2 separate regions of the Homo sapiens genome follow, and region 1 is linked to region 2. The links come from fine-mapping of genetic effects on gene expression. Tissue or cell type: whole blood. Region 2 holds a variant in brackets; the other region holds the start of a gene. All regions are shown on one strand. Distances are from middle to middle. Region 1 holds the start of SEMA4G (semaphorin 4G). Region 2 overlaps SLF2 (SMC5/6 complex localization factor 2).

The links. PIP is the estimated chance that this variant, and not a neighbour inherited with it, causes the effect. A credible set is the group of variants that fine-mapping cannot tell apart.
Region 1: SEMA4G starts here. The variant in region 2 is the best candidate, but not a certain one, in a credible set for the expression of SEMA4G in whole blood (TOPMed, PIP 0.72).

Annotation. Positions count from the first base shown.
Region 1 is chr10:100,959,071-100,975,139 of GRCh38, forward strand. SEMA4G (semaphorin 4G) reads left to right here and starts at 10,434. Exons shown (of 15, transcript NM_017893.4): 1 at 10,434-10,521; 2 at 13,459-13,966; 3 at 14,059-14,207; 4 at 14,477-14,539. The coding sequence starts at 13,843. SLF2 (SMC5/6 complex localization factor 2) reads left to right here. Exons shown (of 20, transcript NM_018121.4): 19 at 358-426; 20 at 2,807-6,064. The coding sequence ends at 2,842. MIR608 (microRNA 608) reads left to right here and starts at 15,915; the gene lies at 15,915-16,014. RefSeq lists silencers at 6,762-7,056, 10,391-10,450.
Region 2 is chr10:100,918,556-100,934,624 of GRCh38, forward strand. SLF2 (SMC5/6 complex localization factor 2) reads left to right here. Exons shown (of 20, transcript NM_018121.4): 5 at 5,420-6,417; 6 at 7,394-7,464; 7 at 10,762-10,884; 8 at 11,275-11,442; 9 at 12,421-12,523. Among named protein-coding and RNA genes, the nearest start is that of SLF2, 14 kb to the left of the region's middle. The variant G/A (reference allele first, on the strand shown) is at 8,287.

The DNA.
Region 1 (16,069 bases), 41 kb after region 2:
TGTTGACACAGACCACCCTTCAGCTTCTCTATCTGGTTGTTCAAAAGCCAGCGAGTTAAAGTTAAGTTCCTTTGAAGGCAGAGAATGTGTTTTTGGGGATGATCTTCAATAACAGGAAAATTAAATCATAAGCATTCAATAGTTTAGATTATGATGATAAAGGGAGTCTTATTAATTTCTATGATTTGAAATCTCCTTCAAAAGATGAGTAGTTTATTTTCTCTTTGTTGACAGAAATCAAATTGAGTTGTTGAGTGTGGGCCTGTTGCAGCTGTCAGATATTTTGTGTAGTGTTAAGCTGATTGTAGGTGAGAATGTTTTAATCTGATCCCTTTTCCTGTTTTTGATATTTTTAAGGTGAAAGACTTGGTCGCCAGGATACATGGAAAATGGCAGGAAATAATCCAGAACTGTCGGCCTACTCAGGTGTCATTTTGTTATACAATTTCATGTATTCTTAATAGTTTTGCTGAATGGCACTCTTCATACTGTTTGAAATAAAATAGGGTATAACAGTGCACTTGCTTCTAGTTATCTTAAGATAAACTGAAAACGCCAGTATAATACATGGTTTGTAATTTTTTTAGTTTTCGTTTGCTTTATATTCATTAATTTATTTCCAGAAGTGGTTGAGCCCATTTAAAAATATTGCATTGCATCAAATGGAGGTTATTCAATTAAGAGCATTTTTAAGACAGATCTATTGAGATAGAATTCACATACCATAGATTTTACCCACTTAACGTGTACAGTGGTTTTTATTACATTGACAGAGTGAATAACATCACCATAGTCTAATTTTAGAACATTTTCATCACCCCAAAAAGAAATCCCATACCCATTAGCAGTCATTCATTCCCCTTTCCTCTACTACCTTGGTTCCCCTCCTGACTCCTCCCAAATCCTAGGCAAACACTAATCTACTTTCTGTCCCTATACATTTCCCTATTCTGGACATCGGTAAATGAGATATACTATGTAATCTTTTGTAATTGGCTGTTTTCAGTTAATATAATAATAAGTGAATCCATGTTATAGCATGTACATCCCTTCTATTGCCAAATAATTTTCCACTGTATGGATATGTCACATTTATTTATCTACTTATCAGACATTTGTATTGTTTTCACATTCTGGCTATTACAAATAATATTTCCATGAACATTTGTATGCAAGTTTTTATGTGAATATGTGTTCTCAAATGAAACATTTGAAAAGGAAGTCAAATTGCTGGGCCATATGGTAATTCTATGTTAAGTGTTTTAAGAAACTACCAGACTGTTTTCCAAAGTGACTGCATCATTTTATATTCCCACCAGAATGTCTGAGGTTTCTAATTTCTCCATATTCTCACCAACACTTGTTTTTACTAAAGCCATAGTAGGGAGTAGGGAAGTAGAATCTCATTGTGGTTTTAGTTTGCATTTCCCTAATGATTAATGGTGTTAAACATCTTCTCATATGCCTATTGGTCATTTGTATAGCTTTTTTGCAGAAATGTCTATTCAGATCCTTTGCCCATTTTTTTCATCCCATACTTCATTTCAAAAAGCCTATTTTTGAATATAGTTATTTGTCTTTTTATTATTGAGTTGTATGTTCTGGATACAAATCCCTTATTAGAGATATAATTTGTAAATATTTTCTTCCATTCTGTGTGTTGCCTTTCCTTTATTTTTATTTATTATGTATATATTTTTGACACTTTTTTTTGATGTTATATCTAAGGAGTCTTTGCCTAAGAGGGACATTTTTTTTAACACCTGCTAGTAAGTGTGCCAGCCTGCTTGTTTACAGAGTAACTGGCATAGGATTGTCTAAAATGACGCTTCTCAAATTTTAATGTACATAGGAATCAACTAGGAACTTGGTGAAATATGGATTCTGACTCATAGGTCTGGAGTGAGAACTGAGATATTCTGTACTTCTTTTTTTTTTTTTTTTTTTTTTTTTTTTTGAGACGGAGTCTTGCTCTGTCACCCAGCCTGGAGTGCAGTGGTGCAATCTCGGCTCACTGCAAGCTCTGCCTCCTGGGTTCACGCCATTCTCCTGCCTCAGCCTCCTCAGTAGCTGGGATTACAGGCGCCTGCCACCACACCTGGCTAATTTTTTTGTATTTTTTAGTAGAGACAGGTTTCACCGTGTTAGCCAGGATGGTCTGGATCTCCTGACCTCGTGATCCGCCCGCCTCGGCCTGCCAGAGTGCTGGGATTACAGGCATGAGCCACCGCGCCTGGCTGATATTCTGTAGTTCTAGCAAGTTATCAGATTGATGCCAATGCTGCTGCTTCAGGGACTAAACTTTGAGTAGCCAGGGCCTAGAAGTTGCTTATATTTTATATCAAAATAATAGGAACACTGAATGTTAAGTAGATAAAGCAATCTCTCTATTTTAAGTCTTTGAGAAATCTTATATTTATGTTTTGTTGTTTTTGTATTTGTTTCTAACCTTAATAGATTTTCTTTTAATGCTGGTCATGTACTGATGTGGTATTAAAACAGAAAATAATTTAATAGCAAAACTATACTAATCAGCTTAACATTATTTAATCTGCTTAACTAAGCCCCTCCATGTGTGCAGTGGTGAGAAAAACATCCTGCACTTATTTTTTACTGTTTTTTGTTGTTTGACTACTGAATGTGAAATTTGAATCTGATTACCATAAATTTTCAGAGAAGTCAATATAAAGATTTTATTACTTGTCTTATCAAAGCCCATTGTCTGATGATTAGTAGTTTTATAAGGATTAATTCATAATATGATTAAATTTTGCTTTACCCTCTTTTTTCTCCTTCCCTTTTTTAGGGGCAGCTTCATGACTTCTGGGTACCAGATTCTTAATAGGAGTTGCAGCAGCAAAAATATGAACCAAGAGAAATTCAATAAGAGCCTTTCATAGAGGAGTAGAAAGGATTATTACAGAATCCAATGAATGCCAAGAAAATGTACAGCAAATGTGCCACTTGAATATCTAGTATGAAGCTGGTAATGAAGAAATTGCCATTTCTGAAGCAGATATGAAATATGATCTGCTTAATTGTTAAGGCAACTGACCTTTCAAAAGTGCAGAGTCTTATTAAAAGAGGGGAGGGGTAGAAGCAGAATAATAGTCATATGTCTAACCTGCCCCAGTTAACTCCTCTTGTTAAATTATAAGCCAGTTATCTTTTTTAGATAGTATTTTTGTCACTTGGATAATCACAGGAAATATATAAGAAAAGAGCTTGGACTAACTTGAGAAGTTGGACATGGAAAGCAAGACCAAGTTCCAGTTGGGTTTAATTTTCCCTCTTGGTTATTTTCGGACACAAAGGGAATGCTTAAAACTGAGTTTAGTAATAAAAAGCATAAATCTCTTCTGTAACTTTTATAAACCACAGGGAGGTTTCAATCCATGCATTTTCCTTCATTACTCAAGATTATAAATCTGTTTTTAAAATACATCTAAACAAACAGTTGAGAAACAAAAGTTTGGCATGTTGTCAGATCCCCTTAAGAGGAAGAGGTTAAGCTGTAAAGTAGTGGCCCTGTTTTGATGCCAGAACATTCATATGCTGTTTGTTCTGGATTTCTTTTAAATGCATGTATTTTAAATACTGGTTAAATCTTAGAATCTTGGCTATATCTTAGAATTCTGGCTCTTGGTAACCATATTACAGAAGTCTATATTGTAAAAGCCTAAAGATCTGGACAAGTTTCCAACAACCTTGTTTCCATGAGTATATAATTTTGGCAGACACCTGAATTCTTTGGGACACTGTGTCTGTGTATGTGTGTGTGTGTGTGTGTGTGTGTGTGCGCTTGTATCTTGAAGTTGTTGCACTTCAAAACCACAGCTGCTGTAAATTCTTAAACACTGGAGAGCCATCCTTTGGTTTAAATGGTAGAGGGTTAGTGGAAGTGCACACGTTGTTTTTAGCCCAGGGGTAGTAACAAACTCTTACTAGCCAACTAGAAAATTATTTTGTTGACGAGATGTCCCTTTTAGGAGGGTTTGTTTCCTGAAAGAATGCCAACTTTTTTTGTTGTTCTTTCAGTATTGGCTTGAGTGACCTGTTCTCCTGAGTGCTCTAGTGTCTCCAGTTGTGGGGGGGAAAGATGATGGAGGGGAACAGAAACTGGACTTGATGTTTGCGGTTTGAGAGGCAAGAAAATAAAATAACTTTCTACCTCTAAATTGAGGCTTAGGAGTAAAAAGCATTTTGTCCTAAATTTATCATTTAAAATAGCATCAGTAACTTTTGAGCTCATGTCAATCAAGCATTGGCAGTCAGAGATTTTATAGGGAAGACTAAGTAAATCCAGTTTCCAAGAACCTAAACTGATTGAGGCTCCAAGAGTCAGACCAACAAAAGTTTTATTCTGTGTTGTTTACTGGTAAGAATATTATTATCTTGATACTACCTCTCAAGGGTATTGTTACAAAATGCCACTTATGGTTAAAGAGATAGATACAAAGAGTTCTATTTGACAGAAGCTTGAAACTCTGGCATCTATCTGCCCAACGATGGGGGCTTTCGTTCTGTAATTTAATCCTTTGTAGATACATTATTTGTGTGTAATTTTATACGTGTTCATATTTTTCTCATTTTGCATTGTGTAAAGTGTACAAAATCTCAAAGTATAAAATACTGCTTATATTGCTTGTAATTTACAGTGTGTAAATATTTTCTAATTGTGTACATTGATGGGGGGGACAAGTGGGTTATTCAGGTTTTTTTTTAATGACCCTTTTGTATTGCAGTTTCAACAGATAACTGTCCATCAAATTTAAAACCACTTTGATACATTTTTATTTAACAGTTCCAATAAGAAAAAAATCTCTATTTTTAATTATATTTCTCCTTTAGAAAAAAAATACTTCATGGTCCCTCTAAAATAAATGGCCAGACCTCAGTTTAGGCCCTTGTATTTATGACTCTGGTAGAGGTCTTCAGACTCCAGGTCATAGTCCAGTCAGTATTTGCATTTGGGTTCTCATGAAAACTTTGTGACTCTCTTTTAGCACAAGTAGCCCATGGTTTTTCTTCCAAATCAAGTATTTTACTTCTCCCTTGAGTCCCCATGCTTTGTCTCCCTCCTGCTGCTATTGCCCGGTGAATGGGATGGTAGAGAGGGAGAAATGTTCATTGCACAGAGAATGTCAGGCCACTTTGGGGACTTGGCAAACGAAGCTTGCACTGAGTGGTGGTGTGTTTGGCAATATTACTGTGCCAAAAATCACCTTGTCTAATTTTATGGATATGTATGGCAAACTTATTACCCTTCTTGCAAGCTGCACATTAAGGTACTTGTAAGTGTTTATGCTTTTGTGTGTAACTGTTTGCCTTTTCTAACTGCTTTTCTTGTTACTGAAAATATAATTCTACTAGTTTTATCACATTAAGAGGCTCTCCATGCACAAAATGCATTGATGTAGCCGTAAAGTAACAGCATTTGTACATTTTCTATCTCCTGATGGCAGTGGTGCCTTTGTCACCTTTTGGAAGGTTTGCATTTTGTTTCTGCTTTCAAGCGCAAATAGTAGCTTGCTTTCAGCTTCACAAAAATCTCCTCAAATGTAAAAGATACAAAATGGCGTGTTATCATCCAGGCTTAGTTGGAGTATTTGCATTTTTATTTTTATCAAAACAAATATAATTGGTGGGGACTGGCCAGTAATAATGTGTGGCGTCTTTAAGCCAAGAGTAATTTTTAAATTAAAAATGAAAATTTTAAGAGGTAGCCCATTAAACAAGCTACTGAGTTGGAGAATTAGGGGATGACTGTGGTGGTTTGTCGCTAAGGAGGCAACAGTAGGGTCCAGGCGGCGGGGCACGTAGAGCAGTTAGCATGATCCATGGTTATTCCTTACTCATGAACAGTGTCGGCGCACCTCATTATCTGTGCATTTGTTTTTCCTGGGCAGTCCTGTCAGCCAGTTAATCCACCAGCTCTTAGGAAGTAAATACAGATTTTTTTCTTTCCTTTTTTTTTTTTTTAAAGATTTTATACTACATCTTGTTAAAGTCCTATGAATGTGTGTGTGTGTGTGCTATTAAAACTGCTTTTTCTCAGTTTGAACATGTGTTTGGTAATATTTGTTTGGGAGTTGGGGAGGCTAAGTTATCTGGAATGCCCTGTTCCCTCAGCCCACCCCAGTCCCCTGGCTTTTAAACATTTCTTCTTGCTTTGGATTGTCCAGTTTTTTAGCTTGATGTCTCCTGTTTCTGGAAAACATAAAGCCACCATTGTACACAGTTCACTTTTATATAACCCAGTTAATTGCTGTATACTTTGCAATCAGGAATTCAGTAATCTCATTCTTACCTCATTCACTATGTTCATTCCACCATTCATTCTAACAATTGAGTCTCAACTACATACTAGGCACTCTTTTTAGGATTCAGTAAGGATTTGATGGTGAACAACATAGAGAACTCATGAATCTTACCTCCTGGTATCCAGGTTAAAATACTTTCTGTTCTTGGGCAAAGAGAATTAGAAACAAATACCCTTAACCTGACTCCCTTGTTCTTGAGCCCAGGACCAAGAAAGAAGAAGCTGTACAATGCAGAAGCAGGGCTTGAGATCACCTCCAACCTGCCAAGCAGATAGAGATCTGGGTATGCCAACTTGGGAGGCAGAGGTTGAAACCTCATAGGAGGAACTTTGGAGCTCATAGAAGGCCTTGGCATTGTCAGAGGCCTTGAGTTCCAAAACCATGCCAGTATTTCTGCCTTCTGACAGGCTGGCTAGAAAGAGACTAAATGGGAGCATTTTTCTCTGACAGTGGGGCGGAGGGATGAGGGGATGACAGCCCAGGAAGAAGCAGAGACATTGCCGTAAGTACTTACTAGAGGGCAGGCAGCACAGCTTTATGCAAGTTAAGGGCCTTGACCTTGCCCCAAGGCCTGACCTCAGATCCCAGATTCATCATACTAGCCTTTTGATCTTTGCCAAATTACTTAAACTCACTGTTTCCTCATCTGTTGAATAATGGTGTCTACCTCAGGGTTTGTGAGGACTAAGCGAGCTAATGCATGAAAAGTGCCTAGTACAGTGCCTGGCATATAGCAAGAACTCAGCAAATGCTTGCTGCTCTAACGAGGCGTTTCTCTGATGACAGATTTGATCTTAAGCAGACACCTCAGGGTGTACTGACATCTGAGCAAACCATATCTCCAAAAATTATAGTTGTAAGTGTGCCCTATTTCTTTGGATACCGGGAGCTGGAGCTTCTCTGTCCAGCTATCTCTGCTGATTTTTTTTAATTAAAATTTTCACTTTTTAAAAGCCAGCATGCTAAAGCTGAGAAATTGGTGATGGGTGGTGGTTTTCCAGCATTTGTGGGAATGTCCTGACACTCCCTTTCCCTTACTAACCATTCCCTAGGCTGGAGTCAAGAGAGGGCAAACCAGAAGGCCCAGCTTTGGGTCTGACTCCAAGACGACTGGCTGGGAGGAAAACTAAACAGGCTTCTGAGGCACAGTGGAATAGTGAGACTTCCGCATTGTTGCACTGGTGACAGCCCCTACAGAAGAAGCACCTCAGCTGTATATATAGCCAAAATAAAGACCACACCACCTAAAGGGAAAGTGCTGGGCAAACCAGAGATGGAGATGGCAAAGCAGGAACAGAAATGCTGCCACATTGAACAGTAAGCAGGACAACTTGACTAGGCCAGAGTTCTCTTGCTTCAGGGAACCTGCTCAAGTTTCAGGAATTCATACCCACCCCCTTCACCTAGGATCCCTGCTACAGTAAGTAACTGTTCTGTGCAAAGTGGAGCTAAACTCTGGTGTGTAAGTGGCTGACAATCACTGCTGAAGACGGCCAGCACTACCCTCAGCCACTTTCTTACAGCAAAGTTGGGGAAAATAGACTAGCAAAAACAAAACTCATACTTTTCTGTGTGTGTGAAGTTCTCCAGAAGGTTTCCAAATGGAATCCTCTCACAGCCACCCTGCGAAGCAGCCAGGGTAGTGACCTTATGGATGAGTGACAGCCTGTTCAAAGAATGACCTGCCTGTGTCCCAGGATGCAGATTTATGGCTGGGTTAGGGTTAATTTCTTTAGTTGATTTCCAGTTTTCTTTTCCACTGTCTGTCAGTATTCCCCCGTTCTTATTTTACCAGCTGGATTTGCAGAGAGACATACTGTCAATCAAAAGGGCTTCCTATGGGCAGCTCCATTAATTGCTTTTACATCTGATACTCTCATTAGGTTTAGAGATTTTACTGGGAGGCTAGCAGAAGGAAATGGATTGTGGTCTGCTATCAAAAGTACTGAAGTAACTGCCCAGTGATCATTGAAATCACACATTTTGCTCATTTAACAATGTCTGAGTTTGCCATCAGCACCTCAGAGGAGCAAAGCTTGGTTCATAAAGTGAAGTTGAGTGATACTGAGCCTACCACACTGGCCTACTCGCCACCTCCAGAGCTATCTGAAGTCAGCACTGCAGGTTCTGTGAACATTTGGGAAGCTGTGCCTCTTAGCCCCCTGGGCCCCTACAGTTTAATTGCTCTCCTATCTGCTACTGAAGGACCAGCAGTCTTCCTACCCTGCCTCCACTGTTACCACCAACCCACTTTTTGATAAGGACTGCAGATTTATCTTTCTTAGCCCTGCCTTGACTGGTCTTCCCACCTCAGACGTCCTTACTCAGTCCATCATCTCTTTCAGGATTTTCTTCTGTGGTCTTTTTCAAACTACTAGCTGACTTTTCCCTTTTATTTCCCACTAGGAACCCCTCCCCGCCCCCCCCCCCCCCCCAGCCATTTCATCAAATCAAACTCACTGCCCTCTTTCATGCCCCTTCCTTAGTTCCCCAACACAAGCCTGTGCATAAGCTTGAACATTTCTACCTTTGCCAATGGTATTTCCCCTTCTGGCTTACCCTGCTTCCTCCTTCTCAGACTTTTCCAGTCTTGATTGTCCTCTCCATAAACACAAGAATGAACTTCAAGGCAAGTTACTTAATGTCTTAGAGCCTGTTTCCCCATCCATAAAATGGGGCTATAAATTCCTCAGGATGGGATGAGGGTACAAATAAAAAATGAAGCAGGATATTCTTTGTAAAAGTGTGTGTACATTTTTTATTGTGTTTCTCCCCAGCTACCTTCCCTCTCCCCGCCACACACATCCTATTTGCAGAGTGTTGGGGGAGGTGGAACTGTGATGTGGGCCCTGCTGTCTAGCAGTCTGCAGTCACACACAGCCATCCAAACTACGAGATTGTATATGATTCAGTGCCAAACTGTGAGCTTTGGGGAATCCAGAAAGAAGGATGAAGCCTTTCCCAAGTTTCCTTTAGTTAAATGTGCCACTTGAATCCTGTTCTGACTCCTAGGCACATGCAAGAGTCAATCACATATGTTCCTGTGGCCTTTATCATTTTGGTCCATCTCTTGAGCCCACATGAATACTGTCATGGATGGAGGAGGAAGGACCAGGCTGGGTCAGGGCCTGAATGCAGGTTTTGTTTGGACTATAGGGGCTAAGTTCACTTTAATAGGCTGTGACCTATTAAAGGAGGCAGGAACCAAGTTTGCACAGAAGGACCATCCTAGTTGAGTTAAAGGAGTTGGGGAGTTGATTGTGAGGGGTTTCCTAGATTGCTGCTGGGTAAGGTGATTGAATCTGGGAAGGATAGGGTACTTGATTGCCTAGAAGGGTGCACTCTAAGTTCTGGATAAGAATGGTGCCCAAGATGAGCTGGAGGGGAAGGCAAGTGTTTGAATGACCCAGTCCCTGAGGTGAGCCTAGGTTAGGGTTAAGATTTGGTGAGTGAACAGGTGCAAACGCTTGTGGCTTATTTATCCAGAAAAAGCATTTTCTGTGTGCCTTTCAGGTCAGGCTGTTACTTTATCCCCTTCAGGCCTGACCCCATCTCCCCCACGCATAGCTCAAGCTGAACAGCCCCTGAAGCTGGGAATCAAGCCCCTACCTTGTGTTCAGAGCTTCCCTAACGTCCAGTCGCCACCTAGGGTAGCCTTCCCTCCACACCCTAGGCCGAGAGCAGAAGCGGGTGGCAGGAGCACAGGGAGTGAGGTCCAGGTTAGAGGACAGGCCAGAAGGCCCTCCGAGAGGGTCCCCCAACCCCGCAACGCCAGGACAGGTTTGCACGTCCCCAGCAGTAGGCAAGTCAGGGGGGTCCTAGGGTTACAGCGGAGGAGAGGACGGGCTATAAGCATGTGGAGGGTGCACGGGGTGGCGAGGCCACCACCAGGGGGCGATTTCAGGGCCGCAGCGCCTAGAGGTGGGGGGTCGCCCGATGGCCGAAGGCTGTGTGTGAGCCTCGCCCTCAAACCGCCTCTATTGTGCTAGAGTAGGGGGCGCAAAGAAGAGAGTGGCGACCTTCCCCTCACCCCACCCAGTCGGCCCCGCCTTTCAGGACCCCGCCCCACCCCCGGCTCCGCCTCCACCACCCCCCCCCCGCCCCGCCTCCAGCCGCGGCCCCTTCCTCTCGCAGCTGGTGCTGTGGGGCCGCGGAGCCGCGCGTCGCTGTCTCTATGGCCCCGGATCCGAGCGCAAAGGTGAGCAAGGCGAGGAGTGCGGGCGGCGCCCTGGCGTGAGCCTGGGGCTGCGGGCCGGGGGTCGGGCAAGGCCTCCCCCACGTCCATTCTACCCTCCAAGCTGGGCCAGGCCTTTCTCACCACCAAGTCCCCCGGTCCTGCATGACGGCTCTAGAGGGGCGCGGGCCAGGCCTCGGGCTGCGCGGGGTGCAAACCGGCCACCACGGAGTCGGGGACCAGCGCGGGGAGGGGGCCGCGTGGCGAACAGTGTTCCCCAGGATCTGGGTCACGTCTCCCGGCGTCCGGCGGGATCGAAGGAGAGCTTGTCCTCGAGCTGCAGCAGTAGAGACTGAGGTTAGACCTGACGAAGGGAGAGGACCGCGGACTGTCCAGGATGTTGGAGGGAGGGGGTCCCGGGGGAGGGGCTCTCTCAAGCCAGGAGAGACCGCCATCCTACTAGGCAGAGGGAAATACCGCCTACACTAGGCAGGTGGACATCTGGGATGAAGGTCGAGAGCCTGCTGATCCTCCATTGATCCTGTTTGAAGGGTCTCTCCTCCCCAGTTCCCTCCACCCCAAGATCTAATAGAGGAAAGGTGATCAGAGTTCAGGGGGCTGGCCCTGGGGAAGAACCCGAACTGTGGAACTTGGGGTGGAGTGTGGGGCGTGGACTGGAGACCTTAAACCCGTACTTCGCCACTGAAGGGAGGGGTGATATGCTCCGCCCCGCCCACTTAGCCCCGCCCCCTCCCACAGGTTAAGTGGGGGCTGAGAGCTCCAGCCCGTCTCCCACCTTTAGAACCGCAATATACATAGGGGTGGAGGAGTACTAAATTATGCGTTCCATTCCATCTTTGCTGAAGCTAGGGGCCTCCTCCTGCCTGAGTTACTTTCCCATTCCCTCCCTTGTAGAGCGGCCTTGACTCATGCACCCATCCCATCTGCCCATCCAAGGTCAGAAGCCTCCCCCATCACCACACACACACACACACACAACCCCCTCACCACCCCCACACACAAACACACACTTGAAATTGGGCCTTAGAATTGGGACTTTCAGGAACAGAGGCAGGGTTCTGCTCTGCATCTCACCCCAGTGGACACTGGCAGCCTCCAAGCCTATGGCAAAAACTGGACCCCTGTATGCATGTGTGCTTGTCTCTGCATGGATGTAGTTGTGTGTTCAAGAACTGCGTGTGAGCACACATGTACTTGACCCTTCTGTGAACATGATTGCCTGGCCCACTATATCAATGGGTTTGTGTGCATGTCCCTACACATACATGTGTATGTATAGGACCCTCCTGTTGAATAGGTGCACAGTCCTTGACACAAACCCACATGTGTGGGTTTATCTCTCCTCAATGTCTGAGGCTGTGTGACCTGCTGAATGGATGGGCATGTAAATTCAACGTCACATGTGAATATGTATGATTACCTGTGGCTGTGGCCCTCTGTATGAGCATATGTGTGCACAAAACTCCCTGTGAGTATATGTGTGAATGACCCCTGTGAATCCACGTGTTCACAGTCCTCCTTGTGAACATGTGTGTGTGTGTGTGTGTGCACCCATGTGCATGTATATCACCTTCCTAATAGTCACCCATGTGACTCTTAAACTATAAGTGTGACATGCACCACACTGAGTGGCTCCTCTAACCTGGGGCATGTTCCTCCTAGCCATAGTGCTCCCCACACACATGCCTTTTGCACTGAGCAAATAGGAGGTCCCAAAGGTAAACAGGTGTGCCTCCACAGGGAGGGGTGGGGCATGGCCGGCTTGCCTGAAGCTTCCTGCTGTCCCAGATCCCAAACAGGGAGCCTATGCCCTTTCAGGGTCAGGGAATCCTCTTCTCTCCCTTTCATATTTGACTCTACCCCTCAGGGCTCTGCCCCTGCAGTGCTGACCTTTACCTCTTGAATAATTGCTCCTGTTATCCCTCTGGCCAGTTCCTGATTCCTCCCCTCTTTCCAAGGCCAGATAGTTAATATTTGACCTGGGAGAGGAGGCACCAGTGGCACCCTCTGGCCCTGCCTGTGGGTGGCTGATGAGATGGAATGTATTAGGTCTCTCCACACCTCACCCAGCCCAGGAACTCTTCAAGGAACCCCTTGGTGATTAGGAGGCCTGTTACAGGGGTTGGGAGAGGCCTGCCACCCACCCCCATCCCATCCCCAACTGGTTGGCTTGAGGGAGGGTCCAAGATGTGTCGGGAGGGGCCAAGGGCTCAGGGATCCCATCATTTACCTTCTTCACGTTGCTTATGTCTCAACTGGCCTTGCACACTACAGCCTTCTGCACAGACATTATACCTGTGCAACCAGGGGGATCCTAGGTACCCACCCCAATGCCTGTGAATGCCTACTTGCAGATAGGGACACGTGTGGATGCCTAGCCAGAGGGTGCAATACAGACTGGCGTGGGCAGAGATGTGCACCCCCTTGGAGAGGAATACCAAGAAGTTATAATTAAAGAGAAATTCCAGAGGGAGCTCTCAGGCCAGGGAAAAGAAAAAACAAAGGGAAAGCAGGACAAAATAAACAAAGGTCCATTAAACCTCTCTGGTTAGGCCCTCCTGCATAAGGCACCCCCGCAGGCAGCAGGGGCAGCTGCTGACCGAGTTGCATCTCATTGTTGGGAGAAGCAGGCATTCTCTCCAAGAACCCCAGCTCCTTTGACTTGAGGGCCTAGTGGAGCTTCTGACTTGGCCAGAAGAGGGTCATGACCTTGGGTTTCGGGTTGTGGGCATCTAGGGTCTTGTAAGGAAGGTAAGTTCCACCCCAGCCTCCTGCATCAGAGCAAAGCGATAGACAGAATGATTGTGAGTCGATCCTGGCGTGGGCGTTCTGTGGATGCTGGGCCTCCTTCTTTCAGTGCCCCCTGAAGTCTGGGTAACGCCATCCATCTTCCACCCACATACAGATCAAAGGGCTTTTTTTTCCCCGTTTTTTCTTCAGAAAACGGACCTCAGAAAACCAGGACTAGCTCTACTGTCGGGGGCAGGGTGACCCCATCAGTAACCTACAACCCCTCTAGAACTTCACAACTCCCTCTCACCATGGAGTTTGCATTTGATGCAGAAAGGCATGTGATCCCTCCCTCCTTCTGACCTCTTAGCTGGGGATTCCATGGCCACACAACCCTGTGACTCCATGTCCCCCCGATTCCAGGACCCCCCATGGCCCCATGATTCCTTGACTCCTATGACCTTATGACCCCTGACCTTCCAAGTGACTTCCTTGGACTTTGACCCCTGTGACTGTGCTTCCCATTCCCCGCCCCCACAACCTGTGACTCTGGCTCCCTTTGGGGGTCTTGTTAGTCTGGGCCTCCCCAGGAAGATGTGGGGGAGGCTCTGGCCCCTCCTCCTCAGCATCCTCACAGCAACTGCAGTCCCAGGACCCTCACTGCGGAGACCGTCTAGAGAACTAGATGCCACCCCTCGGATGACCATACCCTATGAAGGTTAGACCCTCAACCTCAAAAGGCAGCAGAAGCCAGGGCTGGGGGTGGGGAGGCACCCCAGAACTAGGGCTCACTGTTCCTGCTCTCCCCAGAGCTCTCTGGGACCCGGCACTTCAAGGGCCAAGCCCAGAACTACTCAACACTGCTGCTGGAGGAGGCCTCAGCAAGGCTGCTGGTGGGAGCCCGAGGTGCCCTGTTCTCTCTCAGTGCCAACGACATAGGAGATGGGGCTCACAAAGAGGTCAGGCCCTGGAACCTGGACCACCCAGAGGGTCTCTATGCTTATCCAGCTCCCTGGGACCTCAACTTCCTTAAAACCCTGCCAGCCTTCCATAGCCCCCTGGTCAGACAGCACTGCCCTTCCCAGCCCAGGTGTTCCTTGCATTCAGTGTTCCTCCTGAAATTGATCCCCACCCCAATTTCCCCAACTCTGTGGGGTCCTATTGCCTGGTCCTATGAGTAATAGGTATTGGGGTCAGTGCATCAGCCTATTCCCTTTGCCTCCACTAGATCCACTGGGAAGCCTCCCCAGAGATGCAAAGCAAATGTCATCAAAAAGGGAAAAACAACCAGGTATGTGGTCTGCCCTGTCCCCAGCTCCTTTCCTCCCCTTCTTCCTCAATCAGGGATGCCAGGATTGTTGGGGACACAGATGGGTAGGTACAGACCTGCCAGTCAATCTCAGCAACCACAGTAAACATTGTAAGTATTGCCAGAGTGGCAAGCCATGGGCACAGCATTTTTTTTTTTTTCTTTTTTTGAGGTCGGATCTCACTCTGTCATCCAGGTTGGAGTACAGTGACATGATCATAGCTCCCTGTGGCCTTAAACTCCTGGGCTCAGGGGATCCTTCCACTTCAGCCTCCTGAGTAGCTAGGACCACGGGCACATGCCACGCCCAGCTAAGTGTTTTATTTTTTGTAGAAACAGGGTCTTGCTATGTTGCCCAGGCTGGTCTTGAACTCCTGGCCTCAAGCAGTCCCCCTACCTTAGCCTCCCAAAGTGCTGGGATTACAGATGTAAGCCATTGCCCCCGGCATCTGGGCACAGTACTTCTAATTCAACCATCTGGTGGCCTACTAGTTTGTCCCGCAGTGGCATCTTCATCTCCTCTGGGATCCCAAATAATCAAAATGGCAATAAGTAGGCTGAACGCGGTGGCTCACATCTGTAATCCCAACACTTTGGGAGGCTGAGGGTAGGAGGACAACTTGAGTCCAGGAGTTCAAGATCAGCCTTGGCAACACAGCGAGATCTGTCTACAAAAAAAATACAAAAATTAGCCAAGTATGCTGGCGTGCACCTGTAGTCCCAGCTACTTGGGAAGCTGAGTGGGAGTATCACTTGGGCCTGGGAGGTTGAGGCTGCGTGAGCTATAATTAAGCCACACATTCCAGCCTGGATGACAGAGCAAAACCCTGTCTCAAAAAAACAAACCAACAAAAAACAGTAAGTAACCTCTACAGATGCTTACTTACGATGGGTTACTTACCAATAAAACCATCATAATAAATTGAACCATTGTTAAGTCAGCAACTATCTACAGCAAGTGATGATTTAGCTATTATCTCAGTTAATTCTAAAATAACCCTATGAAATAGTATTATCCTGCATTTTGCAGATGAGAAAAATGAGTCTTTGGTCAAGGAATAGGTCAAATACCCAGTATTCCATGGACAGGCATTAATGAAGCATCAGCCCTTTCCAGCTAAAGAATAGGGTGTCTCCAGGGGTCCCATGTCTGGCTAGGTAATGGCTCCATCTGGAGAGCTTTTACAAAATAAACGGCCCTGGGCTGGGCATGGTGGGTCACACTTGTAATCTCAACACTTTGGGAGGCCAAGGCAGGAGGATCACTTGAGCCCAGGAGTTCGAGGCCAGCCTGGACAATATAATGAGACTCTATCTCTAATAAAAAATAATTAAAAAAAAATTCCCAAGATCCACTGGGCCAAGGTGGGCCAGGGGTGGTGTTGGGACAGCTCCGTTTAAAAAGGCATCTCCAAGAGCTTCCATCAAAGGCTGCCTCTTGGTGCAGCACAGGTAGAAAATGGGGCTGGGGAGGCAGATGGAACCAGGTCATGGAAGGCCACAGATGCCCAG
Region 2 (16,069 bases):
TCTCATATTAATTAAGAGTTTGGTAAGATCATATTAAAAAAGACTAGTCCCTGAATCTAGTACTTATAATTTGGGTTTGTTTTTGAGACAGGGTCTTACTCTGTCACCCAGGCTGGGATGCAGTGGCATGATCACGACTCAACTGCAAGCCTTGACCTCCTGGCCTCGAATGATTCTCCCACCTCAGCTTCCTGAGTAGCTGGGACTACAGATGTGGGCAACTATGCCTGGTTAATTTCTTGTATTTTTGTAGAGACGAGGTTTCGCCACGTTGCCCAGGCTGGTCTCAAACTCCTGAGCTCATGAGCCACCACACCTGACCTAGTGCATATAATTTGTAATCTGTCTTGAATCTCTGCCCTCTTCAGGAGTTCCTAACAGTATGTTTCTCATACTGGTATTCAGTGTTTCCTTCTGAATCCTTGGCTACATCAGGAAACATAATCTTTTTTTTTTTTTTTTTTTTTTTTTTTTTGAGACAGAGTCTCGCTCTGTCGCCCAGGCTGGAGTGCAGTGGTGTAATTTGGCTCATTGCAAGCTCCGCCTCCCGGGTTCACACCATTCTCCTGCCTCAGCCTCCCAAATATCTGGGACTACAGGCGCCCACCACCATGCCCGACTAATTTTTTGTATTTTTAGTGGAGACGGGGTTTCACCACGTTAGCCAGGATGGTCTCGATCTCCTGACCTCGTGATCTGCCCACCTCGGCCTCCCAAAGTGCTGGGATTACAGGCATGAGCCACTGCACCGGGCCCCCAGGAAACATAATCTTATTATCTTGGAATTGTAGACTGAGTTGTTGGTATTATGTTGAAGATGCTTTGTATAGGGTTGAGACTGTTACCATGATAAAAAGCAGTGTTCTCTAATATTTCAAATCCAAGGATCCCTTTTTAATATTAAATTTCAAGGATATCTACATGACATTAGTTTGTACTTTTAGCATTTATTGATTGAAAAAAATATAAAATAACAAATCTGTTAATTCAGTACATTTTATCTTTTTTTAAAACTAGAAAATAGAAGATTAAAAAGGCAAACACTGCAGAAGTTTGCAACAAGAAATGAAAGGTCTCCACAACTAACAACAGTTAATAGTCTAGTGTATCCGATTTTTTTCCTGATGTGACTATACATTTTGAAAAACAAATTCCCACATTCAGTAAGATACATTGGACACGATAATAATAGCTGGCTTTCATTGAGTACTTACTGTGTGCTATGCCATTTTATGTGCTTCTAATTCGTTTGAACCTCATAACTTTATATGATAGTGGTTTACTTTTAGAGATGGAAAAGCCAAAGTACAGAGAGTCAGTTCTAATTCCTCCTTCAGGTTTCATCTACTTCATTTTATTTATATTTTAGAGGTGCATTGCATTTTGACCAAGAACTCTCAACTGGTAAAATCAATCTTCAGCCAAGGCTGAAACCATATTTTACCATTATAGAAGGAACTTCTAGGATACAGGAATAAATCTAAAGTTTTGTGTGTTTTTTGTTTATTTAATTTTTATAATGTTGCTGATTTTATGACCAAATTTTAGTGAATTTTGACATTATTGTAGAAGAACAGGAATTTCTCAGCCAGGAGATTGCTTCTGCACTCACTGTATTGCACATTTTTAATACTAAATACATGATCACCTTGCACCAAAGTTAATGGAAGAACAAAATATTATTTTATATAAGGGGCTGCTGCTGGTGGTGTGGCTACCACATTATTCCTTTTCTTTTTTCTCTGACTTAAGATTTGAAAAAATCTTTTCATTTCCTGGATTTGCAAATTTCATTCATGGTGGCTAAAGTAGTTTCATTTATATAATCCCACCTAGCAAAGTTTTTGAGTACTGCTTGGAAAAGATGCTTTCTACATATTTTCAGAGGCTGACTTATGATGGTTGCCGTCACTTATATTTTTATTACCAATATTTTTGCATGTGTTTCATAATCACTAATAATTATAGCATTATACTCTTAATAAATATACATTTATACTTCAATTGACTAACATCAACAGAATTTCAACATGTAAAGGACAAGGGGATATTTCAATCTAGATAGCATGAAGAATGCTTATTGTGTCTGATAGCAAAATTATTAAAAATCTAAGCCAGGCGCAGTGGTTCATGCCTGTAATCCCAGCACTTTGGGAGGCCAAGGCAGATGGATCACCTGAGGTCAGGAGTTCGAGACCAGCCTGGCCAACATGGTGAGACCTCGTCTCTACTAAAATTACAAAAATTAGCTGGGCATGGTGCCCAAGCCTGTAATCCCAGCTACTCAGGAGGCCAAGGCAGGAAAATTGCTTGAACCTGGAAGGTGGAGGTTGCAGTGAGCTGAGATGGTGCCACTGCACTCCAGCCTGGGTGTCAGAGCAGGACTCAATCTCGAAAAAAATAAATAAATAAAAATAAAAATCCAAATGATATGTCTTGTTCATCTTGTTAATACACTTAATCAATTGTCATGGTAATGTACATAATCACGCAATCATTAATCACATACAAGTTCAGGGATTTCAGAAGTAATGTTAGACTAGGCATTTAGCCCTTTGGTCTTCTAGAGCCCTGTCTTTTGGCTGAATTGTGAGGGGAAATTTAATCCATTGCTAGTACATTTCGTAACTGATTAATAACCAATCACCTATTAATGGCCTTTGGATTTTTCCTTTTTCTTGAGATGGAGTCTCACTGTCTCCTAGGCTGGAGTGCAGTGGTGAGATTGTAGCTCACTTGCAGCACTGAACTCCTGGGCTGAAGCAATCCTCCTGCCTCAGCCTCCCAAAGTGCTGGGATTACGGGCGTGAGCCACCATGCCCAGCCTCCTTTTTTTCTTTTTACAAACTCAATCTCTCTCTTATATGAATATTTTATGTATTAGTATATTTGAAATATTTGAAAAACTGTAAAACAAATATTCTCTACAGGCTGACAAAGGATACAAAAAGAATTATGAACATTTTGCAATTAATCACCTGACCTGAAGAGCTTGCTAAAGGGGATCCTACCTGCAGTACCAATTCACTTTTCTCTAATTCTAGATGATGAAACCCCTTAATAAGCTGACTTATCCTAAACATCTTCCACAAACAGTGTTTGTCTCCTCCTGGATCAACCCTGAATAATGCCTGAGCAAAGCAGGAATTTCTCCTCATTTCTAGCTATATTTAAATTATCTGACTTCTCTAGAAAAATGGAACAAAACTCAAACTGGCAGCTCTGTAGCTCATTTTTTGTAATCCCATACTTAAAAGTAAGATAATGAGCCAAATCTTCTCTTTTGTTTAGTCATTTAATTTCTCATCCTGTTACCCCTGTCCTTTTTGTAAGACATTTAACCCCAGAAAACTGAATAGGATGGAATGATTTCCTCAGGTAATGGGAGATATCTGTAAAAGAGCAGAGATAAGGGCATTTGTTAATTAGTTAATTTAATTTTTATAAATTGAATTTTTCAGATTATATATTGATCAAGCTATCCAAATAATAATTGCCTCTCAAGTTTGGTTTTGGCGGGTTTATTTTATTTTATTTACTCATTTTGATTCAAGGTCTTACTCTGGTGCCCAGGCTGGAGTGCAATGGCACAATTACAGCTCACTGTAGCCTCACGGGGCTCAAGCAGTCCTCCCACCTGAGCCTCCAAGTAGGTGGGACTACAGGCACATGCCACTGCACCCGGCTAATTTTTGTATTTTTTGTAGAGACTATTTCACCATGTTGCCTAGGCTGGTCTCAAACTCCTGAGCCCAAGTGATCCTCCCAAAGTGCTGGGATTACAGGCATGAGCCACTAGACATGGCCAAAAGATAAGAAATTTTCTAACTAGAGAAGGGATTGACGGGGTTGTACTTTTCGCAGAGGCAGGGTTTCACCTGAGCTCACGAACTCCCACCTTGGCCTCCCAAAGTTGTGGTATTACAGGCATGAGCCACTGTGCCCAGCCATTTTAGGTTTTTAAAGCAACTCTTGGGGAATGGAGACATCTGTCCATGTGCAGAAAATTTGATTTAGGGAAATCTGGTTTGGGGAATACTGATTGCACAAATAGTGAATTTTTTGTGTTTTTTTTTGTTGTTGTTTTGTTTTTTTGAGTTGAAGTCTTGCTTTGGTACCTAGGCTGGTCTTGAACTCCTGGGCTCAAGTTATCTTCCCACCTCAGCCTCCTGAGTAGCTGGGACTATATAGGCACACACCACTGCACCAGGTTAAAGTGAATTTTTTTTTTTTTTTTTGAAACGGAGTCTTGCTCTGTTGCCCAGACTGGCGTGCAGTGGTGCCGTCTTGGCTCAGTGCAACCACCACCTCCCAGGTTCAAGCGATTCTCCTGTCTTGGCCTCCCAAGTAGCTGGGAGTACAGGCACGCACCACCATGCCTGGCTAATTTTTGTATTTTCAGTAGAGACAGGGTTTCACCATGTTGGCCAGGCTGGTCTCAAACTCCTGACCTCAAGTGATCTGCCCACTCCGGCCTCCCAAAATGCTGGGATTACAGGTGTGACCCACCGCACTCAGCCCACAATATGAATTTTTAAAAACTGGTTCATTCAAATGTATGTGGTTATTAAAGTACTTCTGGATGGGGCTATAATAAATATAGCTTATATTAGTTTCCTAGGGCTGCCATAACAAAGTGCCAAAACCAGGGTGGCTTAAAACAACAGGAATTATTGTTTCACAGTTCTGGAAGCTAGAAGTTTGAAATCAGGATATCAATAGGGCCGTAATGTCTCTGGCAACTCTAGGGGAGAATACTTCCTTACCTCGTCTAGCTTCTGGTGTTTGCCTGCAATCTTTGGCATTTCTTGACTTACAGCTGCATCACTCCAGTCACATAGCATCTTTTCCTTGTGTATTTTCACCTTGTATTCCCTCTGTGCATGTCTGTCTTTGTCTCCAAAGACAAAGACACCTTTTGTAAGTACACCAGTCATACTGCATTGGGACACAGCGTGATTTTTTTTTTTTTAATGAGAAATTAACATTTATCTGCCTTCAAGTGTTTATCCTATACGTGTTTTAAGGTACTATACATTTAAATGTAGAAGTGTTACATTTCTGCAACCAGGTAGTCCTAGGTCTAAAAGAATTTCCAGAAGTACCTATGGCATCCTTAACTTGGTACAAATATGCAGTTGTTTGTTTTAGGGAGTGGCATCTTTAATTCTGTTAAGGTGGTAAACTTTTCATAGCTTTGGAATGAAAATGAGCATTTGTCATTAGCTTTAAATTTCTTGGACACCAGTATTTATCCAGTTGATAAGTAACTCTTTTTCTGCATTCCATATATGGTGACTAATCTCAGCCTTAATACTTAGAATTTTAAACCTTTCATTAGGGTGTTCTAGACACTGAATAAACTTTACTAAAGTTGGAAAGTATATTTTTCACTAATCTAACAAAAATTAAATTTTAGCAGGCTCTAAGCAGAATAAATTCCCTGAAAAAAGAAAAAGGAACTCTGTGGACTCAGATCTGAAAAGCACAAGAGAATCTATGATACCAAAAGCAAGAGAGTCCTTCCTTGAGAAGCGTCCTGATGGACCACATCAGAAAGAAAAATTTATAAAACATATTGCACTGAAGACACCTGGTGATGTGTTGCGCTTAGAAGATATATCCAAGGAACCGAGTGATGAAACTGATGGCTCTTCTGCAGGCTTGGCACCTTCAAATTCTGGCAATTCTGGCCACCATTCTACCAGGAATAGTGACCAAATCCAAGTGGCAGGTACCAAGGAGACTAAGATGCAGAAACCCCACTTACCTTTATCTCAGGAAAAGTCTGCAATTAAAAAAGCTAGCAACCTTCAGAAAAATAAAACCGCTAGCTCCACGACAAAGGAGAAGGAGACAAAACTACCTTTACTTTCCCGTGTTCCAAGTGCTGGTTCCTCTCTAGTACCATTAAATGCTAAAAATTGTGCTCTTCCAGTTTCTAAAAAAGATAAAGAGCGTTCCTCATCTAAAGAATGTTCTGGGCATTCTACAGAATCCACCAAACACAAGGAACACAAAGCAAAGACTAATAAGGCCGATTCTAATGTATCTTCAGGGAAAATTTCTGGGGGACCTTTGCGCTCAGAATATGGCACTCCTACAAAGTCTCCCCCTGCTGCTTTGGAAGTTGTGCCATGTATCCCAAGCCCTGCAGCACCTTCAGATAAAGCCCCTTCAGAAGGAGAGAGTTCAGGAAATTCCAATGCAGGTAGCAGTGCACTGAAAAGAAAACTAAGGGGTGATTTTGATAGTGATGAAGAAAGTTTAGGTTACAACCTAGACAGTGATGAGGAAGAGGAAACATTAAAGTCACTGGAAGAAATAATGGCTTTGAACTTCAATCAGACTCCTGCAGCTACAGGAAAGCCTCCTGCTCTTTCCAAGGGGCTTAGATCTCAGTCATCAGACTATACAGTAAGTAGTTCTGTGACGTTTATCTTTACTTGAAGAGGGAAAGATGATTAATTAGTGAAAGGGGTGGATTATCGGAACTTACTTTAAAATTTAGTATTTATTATAACTCATATTTGTACTGAAAATGGAATAATTCTTGTTTGGTAAATGAGTTTCCATATCTTTAGTTTTATTACTGTAAGTCAGTGGTCTCCAAACTCTTTTGATCACACACACTTAACAATTTTTGAGCATGTACCCCAACATATATGTATACCTTTAGATTATATATATGTACCACTGTAATACTGTGTACTTTCTAAAGCATATGCAAAAACAGAATTTAAAAGGAAGAAGAAGAGAAAAATAAGTATTTTCCTGTAGAAGTGACGTAGAAGTTACTATAGACTAAGTTCTACTGGAGTCTCTATAGAAGTTCCATATAAATAGAAGTTCTATTATTTTCTTCCTGCACCCCAATGGATCACCTTGCACACCCCCTGCTTTGGAGACCACATCTGTAAATGAAGGTAGAGTGTAGAAATGTTGTTGATTGTGGTGTGCAATTTTATTTATAAAGTGCTTCATTCTATCTTGGGAATAAGCTGAATTAAATTCTAAGATGTCTGTAAAATTTGGTGGGGAAGGTGTTAATATTCCATGGTAACACCTAAAAATTAGTAGTTTGATTCTACTAAAATAGAATTTAAAAGTAAAGACAGGGTAGCCACAGAGTCCTTGAGTGTTTGCAGTCACATCTCAAAGTTAGCAGGGTTTTATAAGTACTGCCTTTCCTAATAGGTAGTAAAATCAAATTGTCTGCAGTGCAAAATACTAGATTTAAAGCATGATGGTGAAAATTATCCTTTAAGAAAGGTGTTATCCTGGCCCAGATTATTGAAATAGAAAATAGTCTTTCGTACCCTTAATTACTTAAAACATCCCAGTTCTTCTACTAAGACATGTGGTAAAGTATTTCTAAATGTTCTTGTTTTAGGGACATGTTCATCCTGGAACTTACACAAATACCTTAGAACGTCTAGTGAAGGAAATGGAAGACACACAAAGGTTTGTTAGCATAAAGATTAATTTGCTAAATTTAACATTTTGCTTGTTTGTGTGGCTTACTTTTAATTTACCTTTTTTAAAAAATCATGAGAAATTAGCGTGCATTTTGGACTCTGTTGTCAACTGTGTTAGAATAAGATATGTTGGCCGGACGCAGTGGCTCATGCCTGTAATCACAACACTTTGGGAGACCCAGGCAAGATTACTTGAGCCCAGGAGTTCAAGGCTGCGGTGAGTCGTGATGGCGCCACTTCACTGCAGCCTGGGTGGCAGAGTGAGACCCAGTCTCAAATGAAAAAAAGAGGCCAGGTGTGATGGCTCATGCCTGTAATCCAGTACTTTAGGAGGCCAAAGCAGGCAAATCTCTTGAGCCCAGGAGTTTGAGACTAGCCTGGGCAACATGGTGAAACCCCATCTCTACAAAAAATACAAAAATTAGCCAGTCATGGTGCCACATACCTATGGTCCCAGCTACTCAACAGGCTGAGGTTGGGAGGATCACCTGAGCCCAAGGAGGTCAAGGCTGTAGTGAGCTGTGATTGAGCCACTGCACTCCAATCTGGGTGACAGAATAAGACCCCGTCTCAAAAAAAAAAAAAGTGGGGGGCCAGGCGCAGTGGCTCACGCCTGTAATCCCAGCACTTTGGGAGGCCGAGGCAGGTGGATCATGAGGTCAGGAGATCGAGACCATGCTGGCTAACATGGTGAAACCCCATCTCTACTAAAAAATAAAAAAAAAAATTAGCTGGGTGTCGTGGCGGGCGCTTGTAGTCCCAGCTCCTGGGGAGGCTGAGGCAGGAGAATGGCGTGAACCCGGAAGTC[G/A]GAGGTGGCAGTGAGCCGAGATTGCGCCACTGCACTCTAGCCTGGGCAACAGAGCAAGACTCCATCTCAAAAAAAAAAAAAAGGGAATAAGATGGGTTCTCTTGTTCATAGACTGGATCAAAAGATCCAGGTTTTTATAGTATACTGCACTAACTAATAATATAAATTCCTTTCTGTTTATTACAACTAGTATCTGATAGCTGAAATTCTAGATCGAAAGCATGGGTAGAATTTTTTGTGTTTTTTTAATGGAAAATACATATAAAATTTACCATTTTAACCATTTTTACATGTACAGTTCAGTGGCATTAAGTAAATTTATATGTTGTGCAACCATTATCACCATCTAGCTACAGAACTTTTTCATCTTTCCAAACTGAAACTCCATACCCTTTAAACAATAACTCCCCATTTTCCTCTTCCTCCCACCCTCAGCAACTACCCTTCTACTTTGTCTCTATGAAATTGACTGTGTTTTAGTTATCTCATGTAAGTGGTATTATATTTGTCCTTTTACGACTGTTTATTTCATTCAGGGCAGTGTCTTCAGAGTTCATTCATATAGTAGCATGTGTCAGAATTTCCGTTCTTTATAAAGCTGATTATTCCATTGTATTATGTATATAACACATTTTCTTTAGTCATCTGTCAGTGGACCTTTGGATTGCTTCCACTTTTTGGCTACTGTGAATAATGCTGCTATGAACATGGGTATACAAATATCTCTTCAAGTCTCTCCTTTAGATTCTGTTGGGCATATACACGTAAGTGGACTTACTGGATTATATGGTAATTCCGTTTAATTTTTTGAGGAACCGCCACACTGTTTTCCACAATGGCTGCACCATTGCACATTTGCACCAACAATTAATAAGGGTTCCAGTTTCTCCACATCTTTGCCAACACATTATTTTATCTTTGTTTTTTGTTTGTTTTGATAATAGCCATCCTAACAGTAAAGTGGTATCTCCTTATTGTTTGGTTTGCCTTCCCTAATGACTAATGATGTTAACATATTTTCATGTGCTTATTGGCCATTTGTTATACAAATGGAGAAATGTCTTTTCAGATTCTTTGCCTGTTTTTAATTGGCTTGTTTGGTGGGTGGGGCGGTTCACACAGGTAGAATTTTCTGAAATATTTCTATCAAGTTACTCTTTTGAGGAAAAAGTTTAGAATTATGATGAACACCCCCCCCCCCCCCCACACACACACACACACACACACGAGAGAGAGACAGAGAGAGAGAGAGAGAGAGAGAGAAAAGTTGAGGATCATAATGATCTTAATGAAATTTATGTGACTAATTATGGACAGGTTTTGCTAATAAGAGGGGAAAAATATATTCCTTGTTAATTCAAGGAGTGTCCTTGAACCTAGCCTGGAGAACTTCACTAACAGCTCAGCTGACTTGATTACATGGAAGTTGGTATGTGCTACATATCTCAAACTTGATAACCAAGTAGCTAACTTTAGGAATTTTTCAGATGATTAGTAGTTCAAAAGCTTCCCCCTTTCTGAATTTAATTAGAGAACTTGTCTGTATTTAAAATTCTTTAAATATTTCATGAATTCTTGTGATCTGTGATATGAAATCTGAAGTTCCTCCTTTAAAATTGAGCACTTCACAAATGAAAGACAGTAGTACTAGTTTAATTGAATGATTGACCCTTTTCTATAATGATAGAACAGTACATTTACTAGTTATTTACTCCTCAGCTGTACTTATCCACTGTTTGTGGCTGGGGTAAGGACCTTGTTTAAAATAACTTAATCTTGGAGAGGCAGTATAAGCAAGGACTCTAGAGCTAGACTCTCTCGCTATGAATCCCACATCCTTGCATTACAAGCTCTTGCAAGTTACTTTGCTTTTCTAATGTTGGTTTTCTTATCTATAAAATGCGTTATAAACTACTACATGGAGTTGTTGTAAGGGTTAAAAGAGTTAATATATAAAGCCCTTAGTGCAGTGCCTGTCACATATTAAGTGCTCGGTAAATGTTAGGTGTTGTGATGATGATGACAGTGACAACTACTGCTGCTAGAAAGCCTAGTTAACTTATCAGGTTGTTGGGCATCTAGAACCCAGTGAACTTTAAAGAGTAGAGAGGATAATCAAATTAGTGATGTTTATTCTTTGCCATTTTTCCTTTCCCATTCTGTGAGTGGTTTGGACAGATCATTCTTGAAGTTCTAGCTTTATGGAAATCCTCAAGTCTTTTATGCAGTGGAACACTATTCTAATGCCACACTGGTAACTGGGTAAAAGCCTAGCACCTGAAATATATCTGTTTTCATGAAAATTGTACGTCGTGATGTATTTGGGAGACATAATTTGACCGATAGTATAACAAAATTTGTTATATACCAGGGTACTTAATAAGGGTTTTCTTTGTGCTGCTTTTAGATATAAACTAAAGACTTTTTAAAAATATTTTTAGAGTAAACTGTTATAACATTCTTTCCAATTCTCAGGCTAGATGAACTGCAGAAGCAACTACAAGAAGACATAAGGCAAGGCCGAGGCATTAAATCCCCAATCAGAATTGGAGAAGAAGACAGTACAGATGATGAGGATGGCCTCTTAGAAGAGCACAAGTATAGCATTTTTCATAATGTATTTTACCTTATTAAAGTTTTTACATTTTTTAGTTTTGTTTTTGTAAAATAAATGGGCCATTGATGGCTGTTAGTGAATAATTTATGATAGGTTTCTGTCTGTAATGGGTTTGAAAGGCAAATGTTAGGGCCAGGTTTCATCTTTTATCTTTTCTCCTGGTTATTGTTTCTTTTCACATAGACACATTTAGTGGCTTTTGACTAACAACTACAAAAAGTGGAAGAAGCAAAGCATACTTTTCTCATGCTAGTCTTCTAATTTGGGATTAACATTGGCTTAAAAAATGGTTTTCTTTGCACCCAGCTTTTAAATACAAAACTATATGTAGTGTAACAATTTGGTATTGATTGACTTTTTTTATGTTTCAGGGAATTTCTAAAGAAATTTTCAGTTACAATTGATGCTATTCCTGATCATCATCCAGGTGAAGAAATATTTAATTTCCTCAATTCTGGAAAAATTTTCAATCAGTATACCTTGGATTTAAGAGACTCTGGTTTTATTGGACAAAGTGCTGTAGAAAAACTTATTCTTAAGTAAGTAGAAAAATAGACATTTTACTTTTATATGTATAAAAAATTACTCTAAAACACTTCTGACTCACGTAATCTTCTAAAAGGTTAATTTCTATTATGACCTATTAAGTTTCCTAATCCTCTTATTACTATTGATCTTTATGTTTTCTTCTTTAATTATAGGAAGCAGTGTAGGATAGTTGTTTGACACATCTCATGCCTTTATTAATTATGATTAAGATCAGTGTATAATAACAGTGATTGTCAAAATAATAGTGGTTTAAACAAGAAGTATATTTGAAAGAAGTATAAAAGCAGGAAGTCCAGGGCTGGAGTGCCAGTTTTACCATATAATCTTTCTTCTCCACCATTCTTAGCACCTAGCTTCGGGTGCTGTTCTAGCTCCAGCCTTTAGTTCAAATTCCCAGAAATTCCACACAGCATTCCCACACACTAAGTTAGTTGAATAGAAAACTTAGTCAATATGACCACACTTGGCCACAAGGGAAGCCAGAGAGTGATGTTTATTTCAGGCAGCCAGTGTTTGCAGCTACAGATCAGGGTTCAGTTACCAAGAAGAAAGGCAAAAATAGATGCTGGGATGTGCAACTAGTAATCTCCACCACAGTGCCCAAACTGATCTAATTTCTCTCAGTGCATGATATCTCAGCTCTAGAGAGATCACATCAGTTCTGCTGCCAATTTTTTAAAGTACTTCCCCAGTCTGAGACTTGATAGGCTCTTTCTCAACACTACCAGCAAATGTAGCTTTGTCTGCCAGTTAAATGTGGAGCCTAGCCAACAGATTGGATCAGCTTTAGGCCATCAATTAAATTTATTTTATGAGTAACTCATCCATATTGGTATAGAGTCCACCTCTATGGACTGAAGACAGTTTGCTTGCTCATTTCTCTGATTATGTCAGATGTGTTGGTGGTGATAGTAGAAGTATTTTGCCATGAAGTTAATAGCCATGTTGATTTTACTTTATTTTTTCAGATCGGGAAAAACAGATCAGATTTTTTTGACAACACAAGGTTTCCTTACGTCTGCTTATCACTATGTCCAGTGTCCTGTCCCTGTGTTAAAGTGGCTGTTTCGGGTAAGAGGAATGTTTAGAGGGTTATAGTTGCCTCCTACTATATTTCTAAGTCAAAAGCTTTTAAACATAATTTTATTTGCACATTACTGCAGAAAAAATTAATGTAGCACATCCATGATGTCAGTGGCTTAGAATGTAGCAAAAAGAGTCAATATAAAGAGATTATGAAGAAAGGGATAATGTAGATAGTTGTACAGGACAGTCAGTGTTAGTTGTGCCTGAACCCTTCACCACAGTGATAAATCACTATTATAGTTAGTTTTAGAAGGGATCTTCTAATGCTTACATACCTAAATTTCTTTTTAACCTTTTTTCATGTTTATGGTGGTACCTATATACATTTTCAGAATTTTAATTGTATGCTAATATTTCCCCATTCGTATATATGGTTTTTTTTTTGGATGCAAATCCAACCAAGTGTTTCTTTTCCCCATTCATATTTAACGCTTAAATCCACTTAAATAATTATCTTAAATTTAAGATATGATAATTCCAGAAAGTTAACTCAATTGGTAACTTTTTAAATATCAGTGGTATCATTGATGCTTATGTATGGAGTTCTGGTGTTACTCTAGATACTTCGGACCTTCATGCAGATAAATGTAGAAGTTTCTTACTCTTGACATTTGTATCAGCCAGGAGTGGTGGCTCATGCCTGCAATCCCAGCACTTTGGGAGGCCGAGGCAGGTGGATCATGAGGTCAGGAGCTGGAGATCAGCCTAGCCAACATGGTGAAACCCTGTCTCTACTAAAAATACAAAAATTAGCCAGGTGTGGTGGTGGGCACTTGTAATCCCAGCTACTCAGGAGGCTGAGGCTGGAGAATTGCTTGAACCCAGGAGGTGGAGTTTACAGTGAGCCAAGATTGCTCCATTGTACTGCAGCCTGGGGGACAGAGTGAGACTCTGTCTCAAAAAAAAAAAAGACATTTATATGGGAGGGCATGGATGGGGCTTTTTCCAGTATAAAAGCTTCTGTATCAACAAGTACTATAGTAACTACTCAGTTAGATTGGAATTATGCTTCTTTCAAAGACGAGAACGATTATGAATGACAAGTTATTCTTCGCAGTGGCTCATGCCTGTAATTCTAGCACTTTGGGATACCAAGGCAGGAGGATTACTTGAGACCAGGAGTTTGAGATCAGCCTGGGCAACATAGCAAGACCACATCTGTTTAAAAAAAAAAAAATTATTCTCAGGTTACTGAGTGTTCCACTTTAATAAAATCCTAAATGTGTGAAAAATATACATTCAGGAAAAAGGAATCGTAGTATAAAAGAGTCCTTTATAATATGTGAGTATTGGCCCCAGAAATCCTATAACAAAAAGGAAAAAAGTATCAATGGTGTCAGAGAACTACAGCTATTATATATAAAGTGAAAAGTGGGAAAAACATGGAGTTTCTACTCTGGGTTTTATGATAGCATTTCAAGAAATCTCGTATTTGGTGAGAACTGGAGAGATATTCCAGTACAGACTTTCGTTCATTGTTTTATATAGTTGGCATTTTGAGTGCCAGCTGTGCCAGGCACTGGAGAGAACAGCAATGAAAAAATCAGTGTCTCTGATCTCATGAAGCCCACATGCTAATGTAGAGGAGACAAACAATAAGTGTGTGTGTGTGTGTGTGTGTGTGTGTGCGCGCGCGCGCGCGCGCACATTTGTAAATGTATTGTGTCAGATGATAAGTGCTATGAAGAAAACGTAGGGTAAGGTAGATACAGAGAGTACCGGGGTGAGAGAGAAAGTTTGCTTTTTTAAAGTGTAAAGTAGTTGAAGGTCTTGCGGTTAAGGTAAGATCCAAGTAAAGGAGTAGCTTGTCAATGTCACTCCTAAAGTGTTCCCTCACTGCCTCCACTAAAGATACGTGGACACATGCTCCAGATAAGGTCTGTCTTACCAGCAGTTTTCAGTGAGACTCTTGCCCATCTGAAGAAACCTACAAATTTCTACTTATTATAGTTCAAAACTAATCATGCCACTGTACTCCAGCCTGGGGAACAGAGAAAGACCCCATATCAAAAAAACAAACAAAAAATTTCCTTTACTGTTATGCCAGGGCTTCATTATTCTCTAATTGTGTATATCATTTCTTAAACCTCCAAGTAAGACTTTGCATTTATCTATGTTAATTTGCCTCTTGTTGATGTGGGCCCATTGTTATAGCCATTCAAACCCTAATTATGACATACAAGCATACCTTCATTTAAGCAGTTTTTTAATACATTTCATATTTATTTTCTGAAAACCAGACTAATCATTCATTAAACACTTTCCCTGTGTAAGACACTGTCTCATTTCTCCTTTTTTGATTCCAAGTCCGTTTTCATCGTGGGAGGCTTTACCAACTTGTAAGTAGTTTTTAGAAATTATGTCAATTCATTTTAATGCTATACTCCTAACCAGTATTTTGTAAGTTTAATGTTAAAATGTAATTAAAATCCTTGCATTTTTGTGATTTTATCATGAGTGTCTAAATGTAGTAGACCAGAAAAAGGTTAGTACTTTTTTTTTTTAACAATTTTCAAAAGGAATTCAGGTTTGATTATGAAAAGTTCAAGTAAAATGGAAAGGAGATTAAAATTTATTTATTTATTTGTTTGTTTGTTTATTTTTGAGAGAGAGTCTCACTTGGTCACCCAGGCTGGAGTGCAGTGGCGTGATCTCTGCTCACTACAACCTCCGCCTCCTAGGTTCAAGCAATTCTCCTGCTCAGCCTCTCAAGTAGCTGGGATTACAGGCCTGTGCCACCACACCTGGCTAATTTTTCTATTTTTAGTAGAGATGGGGTTTTACCATGTTGGTCAGGCTGGCCTCGAACTCCTGGCCTTAAGTGATCCACCCACCTCGGCCTCCCAAAGTTCTGGGACTACAGGCGTGAGCCACTGCACCCAGCCTAAAATATTTTTAAAAAGAAGTTTCTGTCAGAATCTGTTTGAGTGAACAGTTTAAATTTTTTTAATTAAAATAAGAAGGCTGAACTCCCAAGTCCTAATTTCTGGAGCTGTTACATTTTGGTCAGTGTTTTCTAGAGTATTCTCTGCATTCAAAAATTGCCATGTAACTTAACATAAACAGAACATGTGAATGTGTCTTATAACTTGTTTATTTCAGATAGCAGTAAATTATTGAGCATTTCATCTCAGAGTGTTGATACGTTATCCTTTTCAGTGGCTTCATAGTATTCCTTTGTTAGGCTATACCATGATTTATTTAACCCAATCTCAACTGATAGACATTAGATTGCTGTATATACTCCTTTACACATTTACTTAATTATCTGAAATCACTGTATTTCCCACCGTGGAATTTTTCACCCACCGCAAAAAGATTGTTAGAAACCTTGTCCTATGTGTAACATGTCTGTGAATGGTGTTGCCTCCTAGTGGCAGAGCTTAACAGCACAAACATCATAGCAGAAGTTTTTTTTTCACATAGATTGTGTTCAAAATGACACAAGCCATATGACTGTTTGAAAGTAGAGTTCAGGTTACTCCTCCTTACATTTTTATTTTATTTTATTTTATCTTATTTTATTTTATT